Linked DNA regions of Homo sapiens. The protein of the gene in region 2 purifies or fractionates together with the protein of the main gene of each other region. This does not show direct contact. Each region holds a gene or a part of one and is shown on either strand. Other genes may lie near its edges. The genes, in order: EPB41L1, CAB39L, PUS7, BCL7B, PLCB3 and ACOT7.

Region 1 (4,091 bases), on a different chromosome or scaffold from region 2:
TCCCCACCAATCAACCAATTACAAACACCACACACAGTATTACTACACTGAACCCGTCAGCCCCTACTGTGAGCCAACCCACACCCAGAGTCCAGGTCTCCTTAGCTGGGCCAGTTCAGTGAGATCTAGGAACCTCAGGATACATCAATCACAGTCAGATAATTATAATTTTAGAATGTCAGCTTCATACTTACCAGCACTGTTTATTTTAATATTTTTTCCTGTTATATGTAATATACATAACTTCAAAGCACATCCGTACAAACCTCCTACAAGCTGCACCTTCATAATGAGAAACCATAAGCATACAATGTCTACTTCCCTTCCTGTGGCTTCGTTTTCTGTTCTTGCTTTCTTTTCTTTTTCTCATTTCAAAGGAGAGTCATCTGCAGTGGCCCTCAGAAGGACCAGGACACAGAGGGTGAAGGGTGTGGGGTGGGGGAAGGGGGAAGGGGGAGGAGGGAGCCGAGACAGAAAATGACAGCAAGACATTGAGAGTTGAGGGTGAGGGGAGGCGGGAGAGAGGAAGGTAGGTTTTGCAGCCCAGTGTCAAGATCCAGAAAGTAAGAATCCAGTGTTCCTCCTCTTTCTTTCCAAGTGGGGAATTTTCTTTTTTTCTCGGAAAATGGTTGACTGTGCGTGTCTTGCTGCTGTGACTTCTCTTGCTTTGCTGTGCAAGTGTTTTCCTTTGCATTCAAGTGGGCCTTAGAGATGCTGGAGAAGAACAAATGGAATTGCTCGTCTGCTAACTGTAACGTGCAGAACCAGGGCGGGAGGGACTTCTACAATCATCGTGGTCTGGCTTGCGTTTCTTATTTGGCGGGGGAAAGGGGTGAGCAAGGGATTATAGTTATTATATAATTTTTTTTCTTGAAAAAAATCCCACCAGTTCTTCAATTTGTCTGCAAAGGAAATGTAGGTGTTCAGATGTCGGTTGTTGCTGTCAGCCAACTGCTCTGCCAGCCCCAGCAGCAGTGCAAGGATGCGGTGTTTCCTGTATATATATCTATATCTCTATATATCTATATATATATGCTTTTCCCTTCCCAGTCTCTCATCAGTGACAGTACGTCGCAGCTGGGACGTCAGTGTTGCGTCGGAGAATCCAGAATGAAGGCCCCTTCTTAATGGTTCTCTGGCTTGGGTTGGACCAGAAATGCCAGGATCTCTTCACAGAGGTCAGGATTCCTGGAAGCCAGAGGCATGGGGTAGAATGGGGGGTGGGGAGTGGGGGGAAAGGAAGGAAGAGGACAAGAAAAATTAGTAACTTCTGTCACTTGTTTTAAAATACATGGCAAGAGGTTGTTTTTGCTACCCTTTACCATATGCCCTTTATTGTGACTCAGCAAGGTAGAGTGACTTGCACCTGTAATCCCAGCTACTTGGGAGGCTGAGGTGGAAGGATCTCTTGAGGTGAGAAACTCAAGGCTGTAATGTGTAATCATCATGCCTGTGAGTAGCTATTGCACTCCAAGGCCACGCAGCTTGTGTGTGGCAGCAGAGAACCGAACCCACATCTGTTGGATTCCAGAGCCCATGTGTGTTTGCTCGCTTGTTTCCAGGGAGGTGGTAATCTTTTACTTTGGCCTGACAATGTGTTAAAATGTCCTTTAACACCGAGAAGCTAAGATCATCATCATTTTACTTTTTCTTCCTATCTTGTCAGCTCTAAGAAATGTTTAGTCACGATTGCAGATGTTCTTTTTTCATTTGGTTTTCCTTTCTGTTGTCCGTGGGCTTGCTGTGTCCTGGAGATTAAACCACAGACAGCAGTGTTTAAATAAAGAAATGAAGTCTGGATTCCAGGTTTGGCTCCAAAACTCAGTGTTTAAAGGAGCAGGCTCTGAAATCAGACTCCCTGAGTTCAAATCCCACTCTATGGGCCTGCTAGCTCTGTAATCTTGGGTGAGTTTCTTAACTTCCTTTACTTTAAACAGTTTTTAACAGACGAGTCTTACTATGTTGCTCAGGCTGGAGTGCAATAGCTATTCACAGGCACAATCAATGCACATTACAGCCTTGAATTCCTGGCTGCAAGTGATCCTTCTGCCTCAGCCTCCCAAGTAGCTGGGATTACAGGTGCACGCCACAGTGCCTGGCAAGTTTCTTAACTTCTTTAAGCCTCAATTGCTTCCTCCGTAAAATAGGTTCTGCCTCCCATTATAGGGAGGAACTGAAGCAAGGGCCCAGCATATAGTAAGTGCTGAATAAATACTGGCTGTTCTTATTATGATGATTGTTGCTGTTGTTAATTTAACCACACACTACTCTGATCTCCTTGAGGGTAAGGGCTATCTTTTAACTCTTGTCTTTCCAGTGTTCAACACTGTGCCTGGCACATAGCAACTACTCAAAACCATTTAATGGATGAAACATCATTTCTGCTACTTGCATGCAGTCGAGTGCTAACGGAATCACAGAAAATGGATCTTTCTTGGCTCATTTGACACATAGGAAAACCGAGGCCCAGAGGCTTCAGGCTTAGTAAGTTGGCAAAACCAAGACTAAAACCCAAGGTTCCTGTTTTGGAACAGGTCAATTTTTTCCCATTAAATTTTGGAAGGTTAGGAAGCTAGGCAAGTGCTGCCCTCTTGCTGGTGGTGTTTGGGAGACAGGTCCTCTCTGAAGGAGGTGGGCCAGTGGGAGAAGATGGAGCAGAAACCAGACGTCTGACCTGCAAGGTTGCAGGGAGAGAAGGGAAAAGGTTCTGTGTGACATGAGTGACTTTCCACGCTCATAGCAAGAACTTCAAGAAGGAAGAACTTTAAGAAGGAAGACAGAGTTAACTGAAGCAGGGACAGATGTTTCTGGAGGATTTGCAGAAGGAACAGAAGATGAAGACCAGTAAGACAAACACCCTCATGGAGACAGGGCCTCAGGCACCAGGCTGGTGGTGGAGAATTACGATCTGACTTTCTCAGTACTCTCATCAACCTCTAAACATGGAAAAACCTCAGAGGGACAAGGAAGCAGGTTCACCTTGCTGAGCCCCTTCTGTAGGCAAGACACAGATCCAGTATATCACAGGTGTTGTTTAGTTATTACAGCAACTCCAATGTATACATTAATGACATTTTGCAGATGAGGAAACTGAGGTCAGAGAGGTTCCTCTGGGCACACAGCTACCAAGGTGTTTCTAGCTCCAAAACCTAGTTGTATCCATCTATTCCTTCCTTCCTTCGTTTCGTTTTTTGTTTTTTGTTTTTTACAGGGTCTTGCTCTATTGCCAGGCTGGAGTGCAGTGGCGCGATCATAGCTCATTGCAGCCTGGACCTCCTGGACTCAAGCAATCCTCCCGCTTCAACTTCCCAAGTAGCTGGGACTACAGGTGCCAGCCACCACACCCAGTTAATCTTTTACATTTTTTATAGAAACGAAGGTCTCATTATGATGGCCAGGCTGGTCTTGAACCCCTGGGCTCAAGTAATCCTCCTGCTTCAGCCTCCCAAAGTGCTGGGATTACAAGTGTGAGCCACTGTGCCTGGCCCCTGGTCAAAATTGAGTAGAAAGAATACTACTCAAAGAATATTACTCAGTAGCAAAATTACTACATCCTAACTGGGCATTGGTTTTGGTTTGGTTTGGTTTGGTTTTTCCTTACAGTAACAGGCTGCACTTTAAGTTTGTGCATCAATTAATGAAGTGGCTGTCCTATAAGTCAGTGTAATCATTATTCTGGGTATGTGGGATGTCTTCGTAAGCCCATAGACACTTCAGAAGTACCAAAGACATCTAAACAATACAGTGTTATGATTTATTCTTCTTGGTTTATTACAGCACAGCACAGTCCCTGCGTGCAGCATTTTGTTAGCCTATTTCAAGTTAATGGTAATAGTAGTCATAATGAGCTTTTATTAAGCACTCGCGATGTGGTAGGCAGTGTGCTAACTACCATGCTGCATGGATGATCTTGGTAGCCCTAGGAGACAGACGTTATGAAAAGTGGGTGTGGTGAAAAGGTCAAGACCATTGGGTTTTGGAGTCTAACAGATTGGGTTTCACTCTCTAATCAATCCATCATGTTCACAGCTTCATGACTGTGAGCAAGCCACTTAACATCTCTGACCCTCAGTTTCCTCATTTGTAAAATG
Region 2 (4,811 bases):
GGACTATATCGATATTATTGAAATACATATTTAAGGTAATATATAAAAAATAAAAATTCATACATGGATTACAATTAAGTAAAACTTGTAAAAAAAAGTTACATACGTATATCCTGAAAAAAGTATAAATTAATTTGGAGTTATGTAAATAGAACAATTAAATTGCTAAAATGCTTTTGAAGAAATGAATCTGAATACATATATATATATATATATATATACATTTAAATGAGTCTTACCTACTTTTTAAACCTGAAAACCTATTTTTTTCAATGATGCTGTTACATTGTCAGTCTATAGTATTTTTTGAATTCCTCTTCTCAAACAGCTTCAGAGCTGATTTGGTAGACATTGAAGAAAATCATATCTATTTTATTTCTATTTATATCTTAAAATTAGTTTTCTTATAATTATTATCCCTCCCCAAATAATTCTAGCTAACTTGATCACCCACTTTATACACTAACCGGAATGTCAAATAGGCTTTTGTTTCCAAAACTTTTATCTGCCCTTGAATGATAAAAGTTTGCCATTATTGAAAAATGAGCATGTAATACACATTGATACCAACTTCAAAATATGTTAAATAATAGCAGGATCATAAGCCTAAGTAACTGGTTTTCTAAAATAGAAATCTCGAATGTAACATCACTCATTAGATGACTAAGTTTTGGTATGTTTGTCTGCAAATTAGCTGCACTCTTTTCTGATATATTCTCTGAACATTTTTTTGATGATAAAATACAGAAACCAAAAGTAAAATGATTGTCAGGGGCTGGAGGGAGGAGGAAATGGGGAGTTATTATTTAATAAGTATAGAGGTAGAGTTTGAATTTTTCAAAATAAAAAAGTTCTGGTAGTTGGTTGCCTAACAATGTGAATATATTGCATCCTACGATTTCCTACATAGTGACAAAGTAGATAATACATGATCAAACTATAGATGATTATGAAACAACGACAATATAATTTCTTACTATTTTGTTTCACCATGTGGACATTTAAAAATTTCATTCATAAAATAACATGATGTCCTTCATATTCAAAGATGTAATTCTCCATCTCCCTTCACTACCTAGTTCCTTTCCCCAGAATTAATCACTGTTGCTGTTTCCTATGCATCCTTGCAGAGGTATTCAGTGCATATGTACCTTAAGTGGAAGCTTATGCCCTTTAATCTGTTTTTAACATAAATGACAGCATGCCACACACAGAGCACTACATATTCCTTTCCCACGTAACTGTATATACTGGAATTCACTCCATTTGAGCTTGTGACAAATATTTTGAGTTGTTTTCCTGCAATAGGACAGACTGGCCTCATAGACTGCATTCTATTTACAGATTCCTCTTATGATCCACATCATACATGGTTGGCTACACTGAGGCCTAAGAAGTAAAATTTCTTGCTTTTTAAAATTAAATTGCCTCTTCAGGGGCCAAGTGACTATAAATTGACCTAGCTGAGTTGGAAAAAAAAAATTACCTTGAAAGTAGCAAAGGCATCTGAAGCAATATCAAATGTTGACAACTCCACGTACTTAAAGAAATCTCTGAATTGATTAGAAAAGAGGATGATTTTGGCAAGTGGTTCATGTCGAATACATTCTCTCAGCATAATCCCACAACGTAAGGCAATCTGTGGGGCTTCATATCTAAAGCGTAAACAAGAGAGAAATAGAGAACTCTGTTATCCTATTAAAATAATATTAATGGCATCAAAAGAACCATTTCAATACTGCTATTAATGGAAGCATACATACCATTTGTCACGATTCATTCAATATCCACTGAAGATCTACTATGTGCCTGGCACTATTGCAGACGTATTCTGGAATTTGAGTGTATTCTGAAACACTTAGATATACTCAAATATGAACATGGTGACAGCTGGGGGTGGGGGGATGAGGCAGAATGTAAACAATGAAAAGATAATTTCATACACTGAGAAGGGCTGTAAAAACTGTTGACAATAAAATACGCCACATTATAAAGGTGACTAAATTGTGTGTGTGTGTGTGTGTGTGTGTGTGTGTGTGTGAGTGACTACTTAAGTTACTTTACTTTAGACTCAAGGAAAAGGCAAAATGTTCCAGGCAAAGGGAAAAAACTGTTCAAAGGCTCCATGGCAAGAACAGGCTTGGCGAAACAGAGAAGGAGGAATAAAGCCTGTGTGATTCGATTGTAGAGGAAGAACCGTGAGTGGTGTGAAATGAGGCAGGGGTGGAGAGAAGGGCAGGGGCCAGATCCCAGATCAGATACAGCTTTGTCAGCCAAGGTAAGCAGTTGGTTTTATTTTAAGTGTAATGGGAAGCCTTTGGAGAGTTTAAAGCAAGAAATTGACAAGACTAACTTATGCTTTAAAAAGATCACTCTGGCTTCTTGTTGAGAATGTCTGTAAAACAGCAGGAGACATATAAGAACAGGAGCAGAACCCAGGAGAGGGAACGGGGGCTTGGCCTGGGGTGGCAGGAGCAGAACAGAGGACTGTGGGCAGGTGGTGGATACTGTTCGGAGGAAGAGTCAACAAGACTTGCTGATGATGTAGCTGGAGTTGGGTGAGGGAATAAATTTGGAAACTGAGAATTCACGAATGATTCCTATGTTTTTGGCTTGAATCACTGGGTAGATGGTGGTGCTATTTATTAAGATGAATAAACTAGTAGAGGAACAAGTTAGTAAAGAAATTAAGAGTTTGTGGTTGACCACATTAGTTTTGAGATGGCTGATATCTAAGTAGAAAGGTCTCCTTGGCAGTATGATACACTTATCTGGACTTTAGGAAAAAGATAGGAGAGACCTATATAAATATATGATTTGCATGCAGTAGGTGGCTAATACATAGCTGTGGACTGATTGACTCACTTAAATCCTAAGTGGAATCATGGCTCACAGCAAAAAATATGCTAGACAAACGAAACGTCTACTGTGGGAAACAATTCAGGACTGGCATACCAGATTGGTTCCATTTCTAATACAACAACAATCTCTCAAAGTCAAATTCAGTCTCTAAGTAAGTTTAAGATATATTCCAGTGTGTGATAAGATTTCAAGAAAATGAATAATGCTTAGCCCAAGTACAACAAGCCCTGTATTGAAATAATACAGTTGACAATTGTGTGGTAAATATAGGAAGAATAGAACAAAGAAAGATATAGTTGTGATACACTGGGAAGTGAGCAGAATATAGGGCCCCCTCCAAAAAAAAAAATCTGGTGGGGCGTGACTGCTCACTCCTGTACTCCCAGCACTTTGGGAGGCTGAGGTGGATGGACTGCTTATGCTCAGGAGTTCGAGACCAGCCTGGGCAACATGGCTGACTTTACAAAAAATAAAAAAATAAAAAATTTAGCTGAGACCCTGACTTTACAAAAACTAAAAAAATTAGCTGGACATGGTGGCACACGCCTGTAGTCCCAGCTACTCAGGAGGCTGAGGTGGGAGATTGCTTGACCCTGGAAAGTTAAGCGAGACTCTGTCTCCAAAAATAAAAATAAAATAAAATAAAATCTGACCATATTTTTAAAGAGATATCATTGACCATTTCAACTGAATACTAGTTTTTATGGAACTTTTATGATACTATAAAACTTTAAGATATTTTATTACTCATCAACTACTAGTAACAACATTTGTTGAACAATAAGTAATGTACTACTCTTTATAAGATTATAGAATTTTCATGAAAGACAGATTCAAGAATAAAGATTCAATTGAGGAAATAGACTACTTTCCAATATCAAATTTACAAATATTAGTAGAAGAAACAGCAAACAAAGATACCAGGGTGGTATTTATTCATTTTTGTCCTGTTTATGCAGAATGATATTCACAAATATTGAGTATTCCCTGAATAACTCATAGTAACATTAAATGCTGATACATTCAGATAGTCATGATTCTTTGTAGAATATAAGGAATGCCAATTTATAGTGCTAGCAATTTCTCTTATTAGAAAAACCTGAAACTCAGCCTATTGGCTCACAAGGAACAGTTGTCAGGTGGGGTTTTATTAAAGATGTTGTAAAGAGGGGTATATGTTCTGAAATGTAAAGGAGAAAAGCACTGTCATTTATTGATAGAGTACTCAAGAGAGTATAAAATAAAGGCTGTTGGCCTAGAGAAAGAATCTAAGGGAAGGACAATTAAAATCCAGACTTATTGATCAGCAAGATATATGTGGATTTTTGTAATTTGGCCCTAACCTTAACTTTTCAGTTTCATCTCCCATCACATTCGTTATTTCCCTGGAGCCCCTCATTCCCTCAATTGGAATGCCCTTCTTACATTCCCACAACTCAGATGCTTCTCATCTCTCAAGGCTTAGTTCAAATGCCATCTCCTCCTTGAAGCCTTTCCTAATCACTACAATTCAGGATTATTCTTTCTGCCCTTCACACTCAAATAACAGCTTGTCTGTAATTTCTCTTTAACACTTTTTTCATTCTGTATTATGTTATACTGCAGTAAATTGCTATAGGTCTATTTTCTTCATTACAATCAATTTAATTGTTGGGGATATGTTTTACTTATCCTGTTACCTTCTCCTCTCCTCCCCTATCCCCATCTCCATTTGGTGTCTATGTCATTTATTGCTACTTTCTCCTGTCCCTACCCCAGTCTCCGAAGAGTGCCTATTATAATGTTTTTCACGAAGCATGCATATAATGAATTTAATGAACCTCAAACTGAAGAAATGTCTTAATACTAGAGTACTCTAATGAGAGTCAAACTCTGACGTATACAAAATATGCATCATCTCTGGCCAACATTTTCTCATTTCTTAATTCAATTTCCAAACTAAGACCATC
Region 3 (4,811 bases), on a different chromosome or scaffold from region 2:
ACTTACCAGAAGCAAAAACTGGTGGTGTCTTCCCTTCTAGGTTGTCCACATCTGTGTTGAAAAGTGGAATTTTGGGATCATCATATGCAACGACTTCCCTTCAAAACATATGAATAAAGATAAGTGTGAATGTGAACTTTCATAAAAGGTACTAAGCCACTCATCATCATTTATTTAGCAAGAAAAACAAGTAAGTTTACTGTAAATAATTATAGTTAGGAATCTTGAATAATATAGCAGGGCCAGATTTTATACCTAAGTTTTGCTTATATATATAATTTTTTTTTTTTTTTGAGATGGAGTCTCAACTCTGTCACCTAGGCTGGAGTGCAGTGGTGTGATCTTGGCTCACTGCAACCTCTGCCTCCTGGGTTCAATCAATTCTCCTGCCTCAGTCTCACAAGTAGCTGGGACTATAGGTGTCTGCCACCATGCCTGGCTAATTTTTGTATTTTTAGTAGAGATGGGGTTTCACTATGTTGGCCAGGGAGGTCTCAAACTCCTGACCTCAGGTGATCCACCCGCCACAGTCTCCCCAACTGCTGGGATTATAACGTGAGCCACTGTGCCTGAATATAATAGGCTCAATCCAATTATATTCTATTAGTTATTTAAAAATGCACAACTGGGGCCAGGCATGGTGGCTCATGCCTCTAATCCCAACACTTTGGGCGGCCGAGGTGGGATGACTAAGCCCAGGAGTTCAAGACCAGCGTGGGTAACATGGTGAAACCCCATTTCTTCACATTAATAATTAAAATTTTAAAAATGTACAACTGACAAATCTTTTTTTCTTAGACGGAGTCTCGCTCTGTCGCCCAGGCTGGAGTGTAGTGGCGTGATCTTGGCTCACTGCAAGCTCCGCCTCCCGGGTTCACACCATTCTCCTGCCTCAGCCTCCCGAGTAGCTGGGACTACAGGCGCCCGCCACCATGCCCGGCTAATTTTTTGTATTTTTAGTAGAGATGGCGTTTCACCGTGTTAGCCAGGATGGTCTCGATCTCCTGAGCTCGTGATCTGCCCGCCTCGGCCTCCCAAAGTGCTGGGATTACAGGCGTGAGCCACCGTGCCCAGCCGACAATTCTTTTTAAATGAAGTTGAGAGTCAGTAAACTTCACTTTGCACAGCTGTGATCAAATTACTTACGGCATTTACATTTTCTCCAGACTGGGTGCCACAACCAACAACAGCTTGTTACTGAGAAGGAACAGTTCTCTGGAGTGGGGAAGACAAAGTCCAACCATGTGGACCTCTTGCCTATACTCCAGAGAGGAGGAGGTAAGAGAGATGGAGAAGAGAAGGAAATAGGGAATAAAATAATTTCCTGGAAATAGGCAACTAGTTCAGGATTTCATTTTAAAATTATCAAATAAAGCTTTAGATAATACTGAGTATTAAAATTTGTTTTTGAGGCCGGGCGCGGTGGCTCACGCCTGTAATCCCAGCACTTTGGGAGGCCGAGGCGGGCGGATCACGAGGTCAGGAGATCGAGACCATCCTGGCTAACAAGGTGAAACCCCGTCTCTACTAAAAATACAAAAAATTAGCCGGACGTGGTAGCGGGCGCCTGTAGTCCCAGCTACTCGGGAGGCTGAGGCAGGAGAATGGCGCGAACCCGGGAGGCGGAGCTTGCAGTGAGCCGAGATCGCGCCACTGCACTCCAGCCTGGGCGACAGAGCGAGACTCCGTCTCAAAAAAAAAAAAAAAAAAAAAAATTTGTTTTTGAGACAGGGTTTCGTTTTGTCACCCAGGCTGGAGGGCAGTGGCGTGATCACAGCTTACTGCAGCCTCGACCTTCCAGGCTCAAGCAATCCTCCCACATTGGCCTCCCAAACAGCTGGGACTACAGATGTGCACCATCACACCAGGCTAATTTTTGTAATTTTTTGTAGAGATGGTCTTGCTATGTTGCGGAGGCAGGTCTCAAGCTCCTAGGCTCAAGTGATCCTCCCACCTTGGGCTTCCAATAAAGTATTTTTAAACGAACTAACATAAGTATATTTTCCTCTCTAGAAACATGATATTAAAACAACCAGAGCGGTGTTTGGAACTCACAGCTAATTCTAAGTAAGGTAATTTGCTCAGAGATAGCTCTGTAAGCAAATCTAAGTTTTTAGAAATAGGAAAAAAGTTCACTCTACACATTTCTTCAATAATTCAGTGATGCCAATAAAATGTAAATGAACTCACTTCCCATAACTGTTTATATTCAAAACAGCTTCTTTATTTCTTTTCTTTTTTTAGAGACAGGGTCTCACTATATTGCCCAGGCTTGTCTCAAACTCCTGACCTCAAGCAATCCTCCCGCTTCAGCCTCTGGAGTCTCCGGGCTTACTTATGAGACACTGTGCCCGGCTTAGCTTCATTTACTTCTTGATGATTTGAAAAATACAAAGTAGTAGCAGTAGTGGTAACAATAGTAGTAATAACAATAATAACTAACACTTATGAAACACTTAGATGCTAGGTTGTAAGCACTGAAAAAGTACAGTCATGCACTGCTTAACAAGAGGGACATGTTCTAACCCTTGTCAGGCATTTCATCACCGTGTAAACATCACAGAATGTACTTACACAAACACAGATGGTATAGCCTACTACACGCCTTGGTTACAGACTATAGCCTATTGCTCCTAGGCTACAAACCTATACAGCATGTTACTGTACTGAATACTGGAGGCTGCTGTAACACAATGGTTTAAGTACTTGTGCATCTAAACATAGAAAAGGCACAGGCTGGATGTGGTGGCTCATGCCCGTAATCCCAATACTTTGGGAGGCCGAGGTGGGAGGATTGCTTGAGCAGAGGAGCTTGAGGCTGCAGGAAGCCATGATTATGCCACTGCATTCCAGCCTGGGTGACAGAAAGAACCTGCCTCTATTAAGAAAAAAAAAGAAAAGAAAGAAAAGAAAAAGATAGAAAAGGAAAAGAAAAAGAAAAGGAAAAGAAAAGAAGATAAAAGAGAAAAAAGAAAAGAAAAAAGGTAAGGCCAGGTGTGGTGGCTCGTGCCTGTAATCCCAGCGCTTTGGGAGGCCGGGGCAGGAGGATCACCTGAAGTCAGGAGTTTGACACCAGCCTGGCCAATATGGTGAAACCCTGCCTCTACTAAAAATACAAAAATTATCCAGGTGTGGTGGCAGGTGCCTGTAATCCTAGCTACTCTGGAAGCTGAGACAGGAGAATCGCTTGAACCTGGGAGGCAGAAGTTGCAGTGAGCCGAGATCATGCTATTGTGCTCCAGCCTGGGTGACTAGTGAAACTCCGTCTCAAAAAAAAACCAAAAAAAAAACAAAAGGTAAGTAAAAATATGGTGTTATAATCTTATGATACCACCATCATATAAGCAATCTGTCACTGACTGAAAATTCTTGTGCAGTACATGACTCTATATAAAGTGAAGCAAAAGCTTACAACTTATATGGTAATTCAGTTCTATCTCATTCTAGATGATTACTCACCAGCTAACATTCTGAGGACGAATAATGATCTTTCGGTAGGCCCCTGACAAGGAATAATCTCGAATTTTGTGTCTCATGTTGTCAATATCAAGATTGTCAGCTGTGAGCATTTCCCTGTAGGCTTCTTGAACTAATATAAAATACAAAAAGTTAGTTGAAATGCAGCTTGTCAGTCAAGTTATCCTGAACTAGATTATAAAGAGAGTAACAATGTAAGTTCAGTTAGACTGCCCTAATAAAATTAGTCACCTTAATTTATAATCCAAAATCTGTTCCCTGGAATCAAAATTTAGTGACTTAGTAACTAGGACTACAGGGTGTACTGAGCTTTGGTTTGGCCAATTTTTCAGTTATTTTTGCAACCAGTCATAGTACCTGTGGTGTAAGGTTCCCAAGCCAACTACAAAAGGCCATTTCATCCAAAGTTGCTAAACTGCATTTTATATGGGCTGAGAGTTGGAAGACAGCATATACAGAGGCTTCAAACTCTCTCTGGAAGAGGCAGTTATAAATAAATGTATAAAAATAAGAGACCTTGGAAAACCATCTGGCTCACCCGCGCACCTGATGTAGAGTCTTTTTTATAGCACTCAAGAGAGACAGTTTTCCAGCCTTTGCTTGCACAGTCATTAATGGGGAAATACTTCTTTGTGAGGCATGCAATTATTAGAAAGTTCTTCCTATTCCAAGCTGAAATCCATTTTCTTCTAACTTCTGTTGACGCTTTGGAACACAGTGGATTAACTGTCTTCTTCCACATATAGTCATAAGTACTGGATCTTTCAGCCATATCTTCTCTAGACCAAACAATGCTTCCCTTAGCTGTCCCTCCTTTAACATTTCTGTATTTCCCACCAAACCTTTTATCTGCCCCAGGGTAACAGGCTCACATACAACAATAACTCCAGATATTTTAAGCTTTTTATACAAACTACTATCAAACTGGGCCTTTTCTATCGGCATTTGATCACTGGGCATAAATGTGGGAATTTACATTTATTCCTATTAAATACCTTCTGCAGTTCTTTTTTTTTTTTTTAACATCTTACTAAATTATTTATTGCAAACTTGCCCCTCTATTACAACTTTTGCTAGCCTTCTACTCATTCAGTAACTAATATAAGACATTGAATATGAGGTGTCATACATATTTGATAAATTAATGGATGGACAAATGCAAATACATTGAAATTGTGTTTTTAAAATTAATACTGCAATAGAATATTATGCAATTCTTAAATATGTATTTTTCATATAATTAATACTAACTATTTTGCACAATTTGCAAATATAACAAGCAAATTTCTTTGTTCAAGTTACTCATAAAAAATATTGGCTAGAACAGGTCCCTC
Region 4 (4,811 bases), on a different chromosome or scaffold from region 2:
AGGAGAGAGGAATTGGCTGAGGCATCAGAAGGAAAGCCATTAGGTTCTCGGGCTGCTGAACTGTTCGATTTTGACTTTTCTTTCTAGAAAAGGAAAAAAAGAGGAATATGACAGAGCCAAGCAGGAGACTCACAGAGAGGGAGGAGGGTGCTATGTGACAGACCACAGAGGTCTGGATTAGGACTGAACAGGAAAAACGACAGCAGCGTGAGAATCCAAGGACCCAAGGAAGAACAGAATCCTGGACAAGCAACTTCTCCTCAAGCCTCAGAAAAATGAACCCTTCCAGCAGGAATACTGTGAATCATAAGCAACAGGCAGATACATACACTTCGACTAGAACATCCCATAGTATCCCTCTCCTGCCCTGATCAAATTGCGCCAGGCAACCCTTCTCTATACGAATGGGCAAGAAATACAAAACACTCATTTGAGAAAGATTCCTGTTTCAGTAGCAGAGTGGGGAAAAAGTGAGAGAAGAAGGAACCTCATGTAACACAGACAGTGACAGGACAAATGGGCCCAGGCTGGCTCTATTCCTGATCCGTCATCCTCATCCATTCAAAACGACCACCCCAGCCGGGCGCACTGGTTCACGCCTGTAATCCCAGCACTTTGGGAGGCCAAGACGCATGGATCACCTGAGGTCAGGAGTTCAAGATCAGCCTGGCCAACATTGTGAAACCCTATCTCTACTAAAAATACAAAAATCAGCCGAGTGTGGTGGCATGTGCCTGTAATCCCAGCTACTTGGGAGGCTGAGGCAGGAGAATTGCTTGAGGTGGAGGTTGCAGTGAACCAAGATGGCACTACTGCACTCCAGCCTGGGCTACAGTGCGAGACTCCATCTAAAAAAACATAAAATAAAACAAAAAATAAAATAAATAAATAAATAAATAAATAAAAATACAAAAATGAGCCTGGCATGGTGGCATGTGCCTGTAATCCCAGCTACTCTGGAGGCTGAGACAGGAGAATCGCTTGAACCTGGGGGGTGGAAGTTGCAGTGAGCCAAGATTCTGCCACTTCATAACAGCCTGGGCGAAAGAGCGAAACTCCATCTCAAAAAGAAACAAACAAAAAAACCCAAAAAACAAAATGATCACCCCATGTTTATTTTTACCTATAACATTTGTTTCAAGAAAGATGTAGGTTATAAGTGCAGGGCAACCACAGTGGGCAGGTAAGCACCAGCTTGCAACAAGAAAGCCCAAGGGCCAGGCACAGTGGCTCATGCCTGTAATCCCAGCACTTGAGGAGGCGGAGGTGGGAGGATCCCTTGAGCCCAGGAGTTTGAGACCAGCCTGGGCAACATAGTAAGACCCCATCTCTACAAAAAAATAAAAAATGAGCCATGTATGGTGGCATAGGCTGGTGGTCCCAGCTACTGAGAAGGCTGAGGTGGGAGGATCGCTTGAGCCTGAAAGTTTGAGGCTGCAGTGAGCTATGACTGTGCACTCCAACCTGGGCAACACAGTTAGACCCTAACTCAAAAAAAAAAAAGCCCAGAGTAAATCCAAGCATATGAAAATGAGAGCATCCCAAAAGCCAAAAGTTTAAATCTGAGTAGCCTCAAATTTACCAGTTCACACTTTTTATACATTTCCGGTAGATGCATTATATTAGTAACGTAATTTTTGTTAATAACTCAATTTTTTGTTTGTTTTTTGAGACAGAGTCTTGCTCTGTCACCCAGGCTGGAGTGCCATGGCACAATCTCGGCTCACTGCAAGCTCCACCTCCCAGGTTCACGCCATTCTCTTGCCTCAGCCTCCCGAGTAGCTGGGACTACAGGCGCCCACTACCATGCCCAGCTAATTTTTTGTATTTTTTAGTAGAGATGGGGTTTCACCATGTTAGCCAGGATGGTCTCGATCTCCTGGCTCCAGGATGGTCTCAATCCGCCCGCCTCAGCCTCCCAAAGTGCTGGGATTACAGGCGTGAGCCATCGCACTCGGCCAAGGAAAGGGGGTTTTCTAGCAGCATCTACTCCTGTCTATACACAATGCCCAAGAGATTTAACTGCTTGACCTTTGACCCCTGTGGGTAATGGCCAGAGCCAGGCTGGATGGGGGAATAAACAGTTGCTCCAGAACCACGCCCCATCAACTCCATGAGTTTGGCATCCTAGAACTTCTTGGGATGGCTGCTCTCAGATAAAGGCAGAGTCCATACAGTTGGTGCTAGGAGGTTCCCTGGAGCCAGAGAGGACAGCAGAGAGCAAAAGGGAGAGGCTGAACCCTGAGGCTAACCTCAACCTCCTAAATTCATTTACAGAAAGGAAAACTGGCCGGGCGCGGTGGCTCACGCCTGTAATCCCAGCACTGTGGGAGGCCGAGGTGGGCCGATCACGAGGTCAGGAGATTGAGACCATCCTGGCTAACACGGTTTTCACCCGCCTCCACTAAAAATACAAAAAAATTAGCTGAGCGTGGTGGCGGGTGCCTGTAGTCCCAGCTACTTGGGAGGCTGAGGCAGGAGAATGGCGTGAACCCAGGAGGCAGAGCTTGCAGTGAGCCAAGATCGTGCCACTGCACTCGAGCCTGGGTGACAGAGCGAGACTCCATCTCAAAAAAAAAAAAAAAAAAGAAAGAAAAACTACGGATCAGGCTTCCGTCCTCCTCGTAGTTACACATTACCAGCCAATGCAATTGAGAGTCCCAAGGGAATAAAAGGTGAGTGCACGCATAAAACTCACCAGAGATTGGAGGAACACAGGCACCCTGATAAACAGAACAGTCTGTACCAGAAGGAGCAGAATAACTGAAATTAAACATGGATTTGCTCAGAAAGATAAGGATAATATTGAAAAGTTGTTTTAGCCAGGGGCAGTGACTCACAGCCTGTAATCACAGCACTTTTTGGGAGGCCAAGGTAGGCAGATCACTTGAGGTCAGGAGTTCGAGACCAGCCTAGCCAATATGGTGAAACCTGTCTCTACTAAAAATAGAAAAAAATTAGCTGGGCATGGTGGCACATGCCTGTAATCCCAGCTACTCAGGAGGCTGAGGCAGTAGAATCATTTGAACCTGCAAAGTGGAGGCTGCAGTGAGATGAGATCATGCCACTGCACTCCAGCCTGGGTGACACAGCGAGACTCTGTCTCAAAAAAAAAAAAAGTCGTTTTGAGGAAGAACCAATTGAGGCAATTTGTTATGAAAAATACAATTGCTCAAATAAAAATTAAGTGAATGAGGTTAATTGAAATACATACAGCTAAATAAAAGATTAATGAGCAAAAACTGCGTTGAGAAACTCAGAATGCACCAGGAAAGACAAGAAATGAAATGAATGAGAGAAAAGTTAAGAAATAAAGCAGTTGGCCAGGCGTGGTGGCTCACGCCTGTAATCCCAGCACTTTGGGAGGCCAAGGCGGGCGGATCACCTAAGGTCAGGAGTTCAAGACCAGCCTGACAACACGGAGAAACCCCATCTCTACTAAAAATACAAAAGTAGCTGGGCATGGTGAGGCAAGCGCTACTCGCGAGGCTGAGGCAGAAGAATCACTTGAACCTGGTAGGTGGAGGTTGCGGTGAGCTGAGATTGTGCCATTGCACTCCAGCCTGGGCAACAAGAGCAAAACTCCATCTCAAAAAAAAAAGCAAGCAAGCAAGCAGCTGCGTGGGTGCAGTGGCTCACACCTGTGATCCCAGCACTTTGGGAGGCCAAGACAGAAGGATCGCTTGAGCCCAGGAGTTTGAGACCAGCCTGGGAAATACAGCAAGACCCTGTCTCTACAAATAATTTAAAAGTTTGCCAGGCGTGGTGGCACGTGCCTGTAGTCCCCGTTACTTGGGAGGTGGAGACATAACTATTTCTTGAGCTCAGGAATTTGAGGCTACAGTGAACCATCATTGCACCACTGTACTCCAGCATGAGCTATGGAGTGAGACAGTCTCAAAAAAAAAGGAAAAGAAATATTACAGGATATTTTGAGGGAATTCCTAGGAGATCAAATATAGAAGAAATGCTAAAGTTTCCAGGAAGCCAAGTAGATCACCTACAAAGACTCAAGCATGGGAATAACATCACATTTCTTAACAGCGACACTGGATGTACAATTCAGTAATAGCTTCAAAGTGCTGAAAGAAAATAATTTTGAACCTAGAATTTCATATACAGGTAAAATCATCAATTTTCAACATGAAAGTGAAACAAAGATATTTTCAGAAAGTTTTCCCCACAGAAGCTCTCTTTGACAAAACTCTTGAAGGATGTATTCTAGCAAAAAGAAAAACAAATGTAGGAGAAAACAGTAAGAAGTCGGTGCATGAGGCTGAGCACAGTGGTTCACACCTGTTACCCCAGCACTTTGGGAGGCCTAGATGGGCAAATCACTTGAGGTCAGGAGTTCAACACCAGCCTGGCCAACATCATGAAACCCCGTCTCTACCAAAAAATACAAAAATTAGGCTGGGTGTGGCAGCATGCACCTGTAGTTTCAGCTACTGGGAGGCTAGGCACCAGAACTGCTTGCACCCAGGAGGCGGAGGCTGCAGTGAGCCAAGATTACGTCACTGCACTCCAGCCTCAGAGTGACACCCTGTCTCAAAAAAAAAAATGTAGGTGCATGAAATTTTAGGCGAGCCTGGGCGCAGTGGCTCACGCCTGTAATCCCAGCACTTCGGAAGGCGGAGGTGGGCAGAACACGAGCTCAGGAGATCAAGACCATCCTGGCCAACATGGTAAAACCCTGTCTCTACTAAAAATACAGAAATTAGCCGGGCCTGGTGGTGTGTGCCTGTAATCCCAACTACTCTGGAGGCTGAGGCAGGAGAATTGCTTGAACCCGGGAGGCAGAGGTTGCAGTG
Region 5 (4,758 bases), on a different chromosome or scaffold from region 2:
CATGGGAGCTTGCCCAGCTCAGCCCTGCCAGGTCTGACGCCCTTTCTTGGCTCACCCCTAAGAGAGGAACAAATGCTTCGAGATGTCGTCCTTTGTGGAGACCAAGGCCATGGAGCAACTGACCAAGAGCCCCATGGAGTTTGTGGAGTATCCTTTGAAGGTGCTGTGGGCGGGCAGGCCAGGGTGGGGCGCTCGGAGGCCGGCTCCGGTGTTCTGTCCCCACATATGCCACCTGCACAGGGTGCTGGCCCTCCGGCGGCCCTCCTGCACCCTGGCCTGGGGCTTGGGCAGATCCAGGCAGTCTCAGGGGGCATGGCTAGGCTAAGAAACAGAGGCCGGGTGTGGGGGTCACAGGAGCACCTGGCTGAGGCCGGAGGTGGAGGCTGATGGGGTGGGCCCTGGCACCTGTGTGGCCCCTGACCACCAATCTCAGATACAACAAGCAGCAGCTCAGCCGCATCTACCCCAAGGGCACCCGCGTGGACTCCTCCAACTACATGCCCCAGCTCTTCTGGAACGTAGGGTGCCAGCTTGTTGCGCTCAACTTCCAGACCCTCGGTGAGCCCTGGCCCCCTCCATCTTGACCCCGACCCTCAGTCTTACTGACTTCTGACCCACGATCCTGCTGGTCTTGCCTGAATGGACCTCTGACCCTGTCTCATCCCAGATCCCAGGGGAACCCAGCTCCCGACTCACCCCGCCTCCTGCCCTTGGCTGATACCAGACCCCTCCCCTGTCTGATCTGTCCTGGATCCGGACCCTGATGCCATTTGAGCCCGCCCCTGACCCTGGACCTTGGATGCCATCTGACCTGATGATCTCCCATTCCCCACATGGCACCGTCCTGCCTGATCCCTGCCCCTGCTCGACGTGCCCGTGGCACCCCAGATGTGGCGATGCAGCTCAACGCGGGCGTTTTTGAGTACAACGGGCGCAGCGGGTACCTGCTCAAGCCGGAGTTCATGCGGCGGCCGGACAAGTCCTTCGACCCCTTCACTGAGGTCATCGTGGATGGCATCGTGGCCAATGCCTTGCGGGTCAAGGTGGGGCTTGCGGGCGGCTCAGGCCAGGGGTGTCCTGGGGGCAGGACTCTCAGCATCCGCCTCACCCTCCTTGGCCCACCCCCAGGTGATCTCAGGGCAGTTCCTGTCCGACAGGAAGGTGGGCATCTACGTGGAGGTGGACATGTTTGGCCTCCCTGTTGATACGCGGCGCAAGTACCGCACCCGGACCTCTCAGGGGAACTCGTTCAACCCCGTGTGGGACGAAGAGCCCTTCGACTTCCCCAAGGTGAGCCTGGCCCCTGCACCCGCCCAGGCACAGGCAGATCCAGCCCAGACCGCCCCGACTCTCAGGTGGGAGAACAGGAACCAGGCACACCGTTGGCGACTGGGGATCAGAAAGTGGGGGGTGCCATGGGTCCCCCAGGACCTGCCTGTCCGAGCGTCAGTCTCCCTGCCCTCCTTAGGGTAAGAGACCAGGGTGAGAAGGTGAGATGGGGGTTGGGGGGTGTCAGCTAGACGTCTTGTGTCCCCTGCGAGGAGTGGACACAGCCTACCCTGTCTCCGAGGCAGGAGCTGAGGTCACAACCCCAAGCTCATATCCGCTCTTCAGCACCCCGCACGGCCCTGCATGGACGCGGCCTCTGCTCCCAGCCTGGGCATGTGTGTTCTTGGTTTCCTGCTCATGACTCACTCCCGTTTCTAAACTGGCAATGACCAGAACTGTCTGTGGGGGCCCTGGAGGGGCCTGGCTGCCTGTCATCTTGCCTCAGGGTCCTGATGGCTGCAGTCATCCATTAGGCCAGGACATGGAAGTGGGGTCAGCCATCAGCTTAGTGGCAATGGTGACTGATGGTCAGTAGGTCAGCTCGTCTGAAGGTCTGCTTTGTTAAGCTTTGATGGCTGTGGTTAGCTGTGGCCTGGTAGCCACAGTGGCCCAGGGTCAGCCCTGTGGCTCAGCTCCAGTCTGGCCCACAGGTGGTGCTGCCCACGCTGGCTTCACTTCGCATTGCAGCCTTTGAGGAGGGGGGTAAATTCGTAGGGCACCGGATCCTGCCTGTCTCTGCCATCCGCTCCGGTGAGGCCTTGGTGGGCTCTGGGCAGCACAGCGGGCAGTGGGTAGGGCCCCCACCTGGCCCAGCAACCCAACGTTGCCTTCCTGACCACCCAGGATACCACTACGTCTGCCTGCGGAACGAGGCCAACCAACCGCTGTGCCTGCCGGCCCTGCTCATCTACACCGAAGCCTCGGACTACATTCCTGACGACCACCAGGGTGAGCTGGGGGTGGGCGGGGCCTGCCTGGCCAGGGAGTGTGAGGGACAAGGGCCACCCCCAGGGCCTGGGAGTGGCCGAGCTGGATGGCCCCGACTGAGTAGGGAACTGAGTAGGGAACAGATCTGAGGACAAGCTCTGGAATTCCTCATTGAGACCAGAGGTGGCGGGTGGGGGTGGCCTGGGGGCTCTGTCTCTGAGACCTTGGCCTTCTGCCTCCCCCCAGACTATGCGGAGGCCCTGATCAACCCCATTAAGCACGTCAGCCTGATGGACCAGAGGGCCCGGCAGCTGGCCGCCCTCATTGGGGAGAGTGAGGTGAGCCGGGGCAGGGCAGGGCTCAGGCTCACTGTGACCCAGGGGGCCGCTGGACATGACTGCTGTGGCCACATGAGGAGGGGGCTTCTGGTCTCTCTAGCGCAGTAGGCTTGGCAGCCCTGGGATTTTGAGGAGATGAAAACCACCCATTTGCATTCAGGAGGCCTTCAGGTCACACCTGGGCTGGAATTCCTCCAGCTCCATGTAGGCTTGGAGTGGGGGTACAGGGGTCTCAGCCACTTCATCAGGGCAGTGCGAAGCCACAGAAGCTGTTCAGACGTGGTGTCCTGGGAGTCATGAGGAGGGCAGTGGCTTCCGTGGGGAGGGGTCAGGCACGGAGGTTCACCTGCGCTTCCAGATCCAGTCCCCCCAGGGCCTGCGGCAGGCGGGCGGGGAGAGATGACTGCAATTAGGGCTGCCTGGAGCTGTTAGCGGAGAGGCTGGTGCCCACTCTGCGGTTGAGTCCTCTGTTGATTTAATCAGGAGCTCAGCAGCAAGGAAAATGAGCGACTGTAGGCAAGGCTGGGGGACACAGGCAGGGGAGGAGAGGAGGCTTGGGGCTGGGCCAGGCCTTTCCAGAACAATCTGGGAGTTACTGAGCACATGCAGTGGGCTGGCATTATGTTATCTTCCCCACAGCCCATGTGGAAAAGGGGTTTAGAAAGGCTTGATTTATAGCTCTTCTCATGCAGACAGCCTCCTGTTACAGAGCAGTCCAGCAGTGGCTTGGACTAAGGGAGGCTGACAGGGGTGCTAGGGGACCCAGGAGGTGGTAGAGGACAGAAGGGTCTGGAGGGAACAGCATTTCTGAAAAGAGCATTCTCCTTTCTCCCTATAGGCTCAGGCTGGCCAAGAGACGTGCCAGGACACCCAGTCTCAGCAGCTGGGGTCTCAGCCGTCCTCAAACCCCACCCCCAGCCCACTGGATGCCTCCCCCCGCCGGCCCCCTGGCCCCACCACCTCCCCTGCCAGCACCTCCCTCAGCAGCCCAGGTAAGGAGTGGCCTGGGTCGGGGGTGGGCTGCAGGGAGGCACCCCCCACCCTGTCCTCCAGCTCCTCACAGGGCCTCTGCTCCCCAGGGCAGCGTGATGATCTCATCGCCAGCATCCTCTCAGGTAGGGGGCGGGGTACCTGGAGGCAGGGGGCTGCCTTGCAGGTTCCCCCACCCCCCGCCCACCTTTGCTCTGCCGCTCCCAGAGGTGGCCCCCACCCCGCTGGATGAGCTCCGAGGTCACAAGGCTCTGGTCAAGCTCCGGAGCCGGCAAGAGCGAGACCTGCGGGAGCTGCGCAAGAAGCATCAGCGGAAGGCAGTCACCCTCACCCGCCGCCTGCTGGATGGCCTGGCTCAGGCACAGGCTGAGGGCAGGTGCCGGCTGCGGCCAGGTGCCCTGTGAGTGTCTGGGCCGCCTGTGTGCTATGTGTGCTGGGTGTGCTGATGTGAACATGGGGGTCGGTGGGCATGGAGAGATGGCAAGAGCTGCTCCTTGACCCCCAGGGAGGAGGGTTCAGTGCAAGGATGGAGGAGGCTTTCCACACCAGGCGTCCCTGTGTCCCCCAGGGAGTGACATCTCTTTTGAAGTCCATGAGGAGCATGTTGCCCAAACAGGCTCCCATCACTTGGGTGGAGCTAACAGGCCTCCTGGTTTGCATAACAGACCTGGCCCCATGGGATGGTGTCTGCCATCGCTTGCCAGGATGTGCCCCCCTACACACCCTCCCCATCCCAGTCCATGTGACGGGCCCAGGCATCACCCAGAGGGGTTCTCCTCGCAGAGGTGGGGCCGCTGATGTGGAGGACACGAAGGAGGGGGAGGACGAGGCAAAGCGGTATCAGGAGTTCCAGAACAGACAGGTGCAGAGCCTGCTGGAGCTGCGGGAGGCCCAGGTGGACGCAGAGGCCCAGCGGAGGCTGGAACACCTGAGACAGGTAGGGGGCCTGCAGTGGCCAGGGAAAGCCTGCTGGATAGACCCGTCGTCAGCCCGGCATCACCTGTCAGCTCCCTGTGTCCACAGGCTCTGCAGCGGCTCAGGGAGGTCGTCCTTGATGCAAACACAACTCAGTTCAAGAGGCTGAAAGAGATGAACGAGAGGTGAAAGCCGAGGATTGTCTATGGGAAGGGCTGGGGACTTCTAGTACCAGAAGGAGGGCAGAGTCTGTGCTTCT
Region 6 (4,811 bases), on a different chromosome or scaffold from region 2:
AGAATCGCTTGAACCTGGGAGGCGGAGGTTGCAGTGAGCCGAGATTGTGCCATTGCACTCCAGCCTGAGCAACAAGAGCAAAACTCCGTCTCAAAAAAAAAGAAAAAAAAAAAAACAAAGAACCTGATTTACAGAAGCCACACTCAGAGCTTGTATTCTGGAGCATTCCGCAAAATGATTTACAGTGCTGGCTCTCTTGCTGCTGGGATGTGTGGACCCTGGGTGAAGATGCAGTCTTTGTAACCCAGAGAGCCTGTGCGTGGGGAGGCCTTTGTCTACCCACTGTCCAACCTCACGCTGTAAGTGGGCCACTTAGCCTGGCATTGCCCTGGAATTGGCACCTGCAGCTAGCTGGCTCCCCAGTTCTGGTCAGACCAGAAGTGGCTTTCTCCTGTGTGACCCACCTGGCCTGTGTAGCCTGCACCAGGGGGTGACCCCATAGGCTGTCTTGCCATCCCACCCCTTGGCCTCTCACTCTCAGAGCCCTCCTGGGGAGGGGGATCAAGGATGTGCCTCCCCATCCTTGGACCCCTGCATGGGAATAACTGGGGAAGTCTGTTACAAATATGGGTTTTCTGCATGTGAACAGTACTTCAGCAGAGAGTCAACAAGATGAAGATTGAGGAGATAATGGGGAAACTTGAATAGTCCCTTGATAATGATTTTAAGGAATCACTGCTTTTTTTTTTAAGGTAGGATAATTGTTTTGTAGTTTGCTTTTTTAAACCAGCTTTATTGAGATAGATTTAGAATGCATACACAAGAATATTTGAAACGTACAGTTTGCTGAGTTTTGATGAGTGTGCACACTGAGTAGTGGCGGGCCCAGTTGTGATGTCGAATATTTCCAAACTCCCAAAATTCCCCTACTGTTGGCCCCTGGCAAAAAGATCTGCTTTCACTCACTCGCTGTGCCTCTTCTAGAATTTCGTGTCGATGGAACCGGATCGAGCTCAGTGCTGGGCCTCGCTCCTGTGTCCCCGTAGCCCTGTATTACCCTGTTCCCTGCACACTGCAGTTTCTCTTCACCAGGCCACAGAGACTTGGGATCTTGTGAATGAAGTTCACAAATGCAGATTTCAATTCATTTAGGACAGAAACGTGAAGTCACTTGCTATTTAATGATATTAGGAATTTGGATGATATTTTAGATGAGATCTTTGTTTTGTGGTTTTTATTTTTATTTGAGACAGGGTCTCGCTTAGTTGGCCAGGCAACTAAGTGGTGCAGTGGTGCAATCATGGTTCTCTGCAGCCCCAACCTTCTGGGCTCAAGGGATTCTCCCACCTCAGCCTCTCGAGTAGCTGGGACTACGAGTGCACGCCTCTGTGCCTGGCTAATGTTAAAAAGATTTTTTGTAGAGACATGATCTCACTTTGTTGCCGAGGCAGGTCTTGAACTCCTGGGCTCAAGTGATCTTCCCACCTCGGCCTCCCAAAGTGCTGGAATTGTGGGCATGAGTCACCATACCCCTCCTTTAGGTTTTTCACAAGGAGCTTTTATCTTTGAGAGGAAATGCAGACATATTTACGATGTCGTACTGGGAAATCCGGGATTTGCTGCAGAATAACCTGGCATGGGGAGCAGGTGGGAGCAGAGACCAGAGGTGCCCTGAGCTGACTGTTTTGGGGCTGCTTGATGGGGACATAGGGGTTCACTCCCTCCTCCCTCTACTCTTGTAAGCATTTGATGTTTACCACAATGAAGAATAAAAAGAAAACCAGGCTCCTGAGCCTCCACCCCAGAGCTACTGCCTCTAACTCCAGGGGCGGGGAAGGTCAGGGAGGGGTAGGCCCAGGAATCTGCATTTTCCTCGGCCCTCCTGGAGCTTGAGGGCCACTGTCAGAGGAGGGCCAGGCACCTGCCGTGTTGTGCGGTGTGTTGGCCTTCCTCGGCTTCCCCGCAGCCTTCCAGCTCTCCCGGTGCCTGTGAGCCAAGACCTCTCTGCCCAGGTGGAACTCCGCCCAGGTGGAACTCATTCTTCTACTTGCCTGAGGGCCAGCCTGAGTGGTGCGAGGTTTAAGGTCCTGGAGGTGGGAACCCTTATGAGTGTTGCTTGTGGCCCCACCCAGTTCATCCTCTCCCGCAGAGGGGTGGTGGCCCTGTCCTGTTTCCCTGTCTGTGAGTTCAGGCCGAGTCATGGATTCCTTGCATCACTGGTCTTTTGTAGAGAACATCCTGTGATCCAGTTCCGGAAGCCGAGGAGGCGGCTTGCCGGGGGCTGGTGGGGGAGGGGCGGTCCTAGGAGGAGCAGGAGCCTGGTGCTTTCTATCAGGGAGGGATCACACCGGCTCACTGCTGAGCCGGCCAGGCAGACACAGGCTTGGGCTCTGCTGGGCATCATACTTGTCACTGGGTAAACAGTTTGCCCACTTACCGCAGGATGAAGCTGCTTGCCAGGGCTCTCCGGCTCTGTGAGTTTGGGAGGCAGGCATCTTCCAGGAGGCTGGTGGCTGGCCAGGGATGTGTGGGGCCCCGGCGAGGGTGCTGCGCTCCCGTCCAGGTGGTTGGGCCCAGGGCTGATCTCCCACCCTGTGGAGCCTGCATTACTGGAAGGTAGGATGACTGGGAATATTTTGTGCCCATGGTGTCTCACTTGCGACGCCGACTGGGCAGCCAGGGCCTTGGGCCGCATAACTTGGAGGAGTTTTGGGGAGGGTAGTAGGGTCGGGTGTTGGATGAGCTGTGTGTTTTGCTGGATTGAAAGTGCCCACTTAAGTGGCCACCCTCAGTGGAGACCTGGCATGTTCTTCCCCTAGGGACGAGCGGAACACCCGGGCTTTGTTGGAGGAGGTGACCTGGCAACCCTGGGCTGTGGGAATCTGGGCCTCTGCAGATCAAGGCTCCTGCAAGCCAGCAGCTGTGCTGGCTCACAGCTGGCAGCTGGCATCCGTGCCCTGCTTTGTCCCTAGGCTGGATGTTGAGCTGTGATTTTAGACCAGAAGGTTGGTGCAGGGCCAGAGGGAGCTGTTCCTGCACGATTGGCTGATCCTAACAGTGCAGTGTTGAGCTGCTTACAGATGGCTTTTGCATACTTTATTTCTCCTAAACTTTACAGAAACTCTGTTGAGTGGGCATACATACCTCCCCCTTTGTGCCAGCTTTATTGGGTTATAGTTCACATGCCATACAATTCATTCACTAATGTGTACAAGCTAGTAGATTTCAGTTTTATGTTCACAGAGCTGTGGGATCATGACCTCCATCAATTTTGAAAGGGGTGGTAGGAGGATTTTTTGTTCTCCTGACATGGAGCTCCCCAAGCCCTTGGGACCTTTGTAGTCCTAAGAGTGTCTAGTATGCTAATGAGAGAACTGGTGGCTGGGGGCCCTAGATATAGCTTCAGGATGGGAGCTGGTCTCCAGAAAGGCCAAGGGAGGATTAGCGGGTTAGCGCTTTCAACCTTACCTTCCTATACCGCAGAAGGTAGTGCCAGACTTTACTTGAATTGTAGGACACCCACCTAGTGTCGGAGAGTTGGAGAAGTGGGGTTGAAAGAGACACCCATGTTTGTTATTAAAAGCATGAGTAAAAACAGCTCGCCTAGGAATATAATTTTTGGGTCATATGGTAATTTTGTGGTTATTCTCTTGAGGAATTACCAGACTGTTTCCAAAGTGGCTGCACCATTTCACATTCCCACCAGCAGTGTAAAAAGGATTCAATTTCCCCATATCCTTGTCAGCACTTGTTATTATCCATCTTTTGAATTCTAGCCATGCTAGTAGATGTGCAGTGGTATCTCACTGTGGCTTTGATCTACATTTCCCTAATGAGAGAAGATGATACTGAGCATCTTCTCATGTGCTTATTGACCACTGTGTATTTTTAGAGAGCTGTCTAGTCAGGTCTTTCCTGTATTTTCCAATTGGTGTAATTGTCTTTTTGTTGTTGAGTGATGAGAGCTCTTTATATATTCTAGATGCAAGTCCCTTCTCAGATAAAATTTTTTAATTAAGAAAATTTTCCAATTCAAAAAAGTTGTCAGCCTGGGCAACATAGCAAGATCTGATCTCTATTAAAGATTAAAAAATTAGCCAGATGTTGGCTGGGCGTGGTGGCTCACACCTGTAATCCCAGCACTTTGGGAGGCCGAGGCGGGCGGATCACGAGGTCAGGGGATCGAGACCATTCTAGCTAACACAGGGAAACCCCATCTTTACCAAAAATACAAAAAATTAGCCGAGTGTGGTGGCGGGCGCCTGTAGTCCCAGCTACTTGGGATGCTGAGGCAGGAGAATGGCTTGAACCCGGGAGGCGGAGCTTACAGTGAGCCAAGATCGTGCCACTGCACTCCAGCCTGGGCCACGGAGCAAGACTCCGTCTCAAAAGAAAAAAAAATTAGCCAGATGCAGGGTAGGTGGGGTGTGCCTGTAGTCTCAACCACTCAGGAGATTGAGGCAGGAAGATTGCTTGAACCCAGGAAGTTGAGGCTGTAGTGAGCTTATTGCACCACTGCAATCCAGCCTGGACAACAGATCAAGACTCTTGTCTCTCAAAAAAAAAAAAACTGTGTTAAAATACACATAATATATAATTTACCGTTAAAAAAATCTGCCATCAGGCCGGGCGCGGTGACTCACGCCTGTAATCCCAGAACTTTGGGAGGCTGAGGCGGATGGATCACGAGGTCAGGAGATCGAGACCATCCTGGCTAACAAGGTGAAACCCCGTCTCTACTAAAAATACAAAAAATTAGCCAGGCGTCATGGTGGGCGCCTGTAGTCTCAGCTACTTGGGAGGCTGAGGCAGGAGAATGGCATGAACCCGGGAGGCGGAGCTTGCAGTGAGCTGAGATTGCGCCACTACAC

The links.
Region 1: the proteins of CAB39L (region 2) and EPB41L1 purify together in Homo sapiens (affinity purification with mass spectrometry; one large-scale study listed by BioGRID and IntAct). This does not show direct contact.
Region 3: the proteins of CAB39L (region 2) and PUS7 purify together in Homo sapiens (affinity purification with mass spectrometry; one large-scale study listed by BioGRID and IntAct). This does not show direct contact.
Region 4: the proteins of CAB39L (region 2) and BCL7B purify together in Homo sapiens (affinity purification with mass spectrometry; one large-scale study listed by BioGRID and IntAct). This does not show direct contact.
Region 5: the proteins of CAB39L (region 2) and PLCB3 purify together in Homo sapiens (affinity purification with mass spectrometry; one large-scale study listed by BioGRID and IntAct). This does not show direct contact.
Region 6: the proteins of CAB39L (region 2) and ACOT7 purify together in Homo sapiens (affinity purification with mass spectrometry; 3 studies listed by BioGRID and IntAct, with this or other methods). This does not show direct contact.

Annotation. Positions count from the first base shown.
Region 1 is NC_000020.11:36,226,429-36,230,519, reverse strand, and holds part of EPB41L1 (band 4.1-like protein 1), read right to left. Parts: intron 1,189-4,091; coding exon 1,180-1,188; 3' UTR 1-1,179. UniProt on the Homo sapiens protein: May function to confer stability and plasticity to neuronal membrane via multiple interactions, including the spectrin-actin-based cytoskeleton, integral membrane channels and membrane-associated guanylate kinases.
Region 2 is NC_000013.11:49,349,258-49,354,068, forward strand, and holds part of CAB39L (calcium-binding protein 39-like), read right to left. Parts: intron 1,656-4,811; coding exon 1,487-1,655; intron 1-1,486. UniProt on the Homo sapiens protein: Component of a complex that binds and activates STK11/LKB1. In the complex, required to stabilize the interaction between CAB39/MO25 (CAB39/MO25alpha or CAB39L/MO25beta) and STK11/LKB1.
Region 3 is NC_000007.14:105,459,162-105,463,972, forward strand, and holds part of PUS7 (pseudouridylate synthase 7 homolog), read right to left. Parts: intron 3,590-4,811; coding exon 3,460-3,589; intron 99-3,459; coding exon 7-98; intron 1-6. UniProt on the Homo sapiens protein: Pseudouridylate synthase that catalyzes pseudouridylation of RNAs.
Region 4 is NC_000007.14:73,543,562-73,548,372, forward strand, and holds part of BCL7B (B-cell CLL/lymphoma 7 protein family member B), read right to left. Parts: intron 84-4,811; coding exon 1-83. UniProt on the Homo sapiens protein: Positive regulator of apoptosis. Plays a role in the Wnt signaling pathway, negatively regulating the expression of Wnt signaling components CTNNB1 and HMGA1.
Region 5 is NC_000011.10:64,261,519-64,266,276, forward strand, and holds part of PLCB3 (1-phosphatidylinositol 4,5-bisphosphate phosphodiesterase beta-3), read left to right. Parts: intron 1-62; coding exon 63-147; intron 148-433; coding exon 434-558; intron 559-667; coding exon of another isoform or gene 668-741; exon of another isoform or gene 742-848; intron 849-888; coding exon 889-1,043; intron 1,044-1,128; coding exon 1,129-1,290; intron 1,291-1,979; coding exon 1,980-2,079; intron 2,080-2,172; coding exon 2,173-2,277; intron 2,278-2,502; coding exon 2,503-2,594; intron 2,595-3,432; coding exon 3,433-3,586; intron 3,587-3,673; coding exon 3,674-3,709; intron 3,710-3,791; coding exon 3,792-3,984; intron 3,985-4,367; coding exon 4,368-4,521; intron 4,522-4,607; coding exon 4,608-4,684; intron 4,685-4,758. UniProt on the Homo sapiens protein: Catalyzes the production of the second messenger molecules diacylglycerol (DAG) and inositol 1,4,5-trisphosphate (IP3).
Region 6 is NC_000001.11:6,383,239-6,388,049, reverse strand, and holds part of ACOT7 (cytosolic acyl coenzyme A thioester hydrolase), read left to right. Parts: intron 1-2,281; exon of another isoform or gene 2,282-2,383; coding exon of another isoform or gene 2,384-2,556; intron 2,557-4,811. UniProt on the Homo sapiens protein: Catalyzes the hydrolysis of acyl-CoAs into free fatty acids and coenzyme A (CoASH), regulating their respective intracellular levels.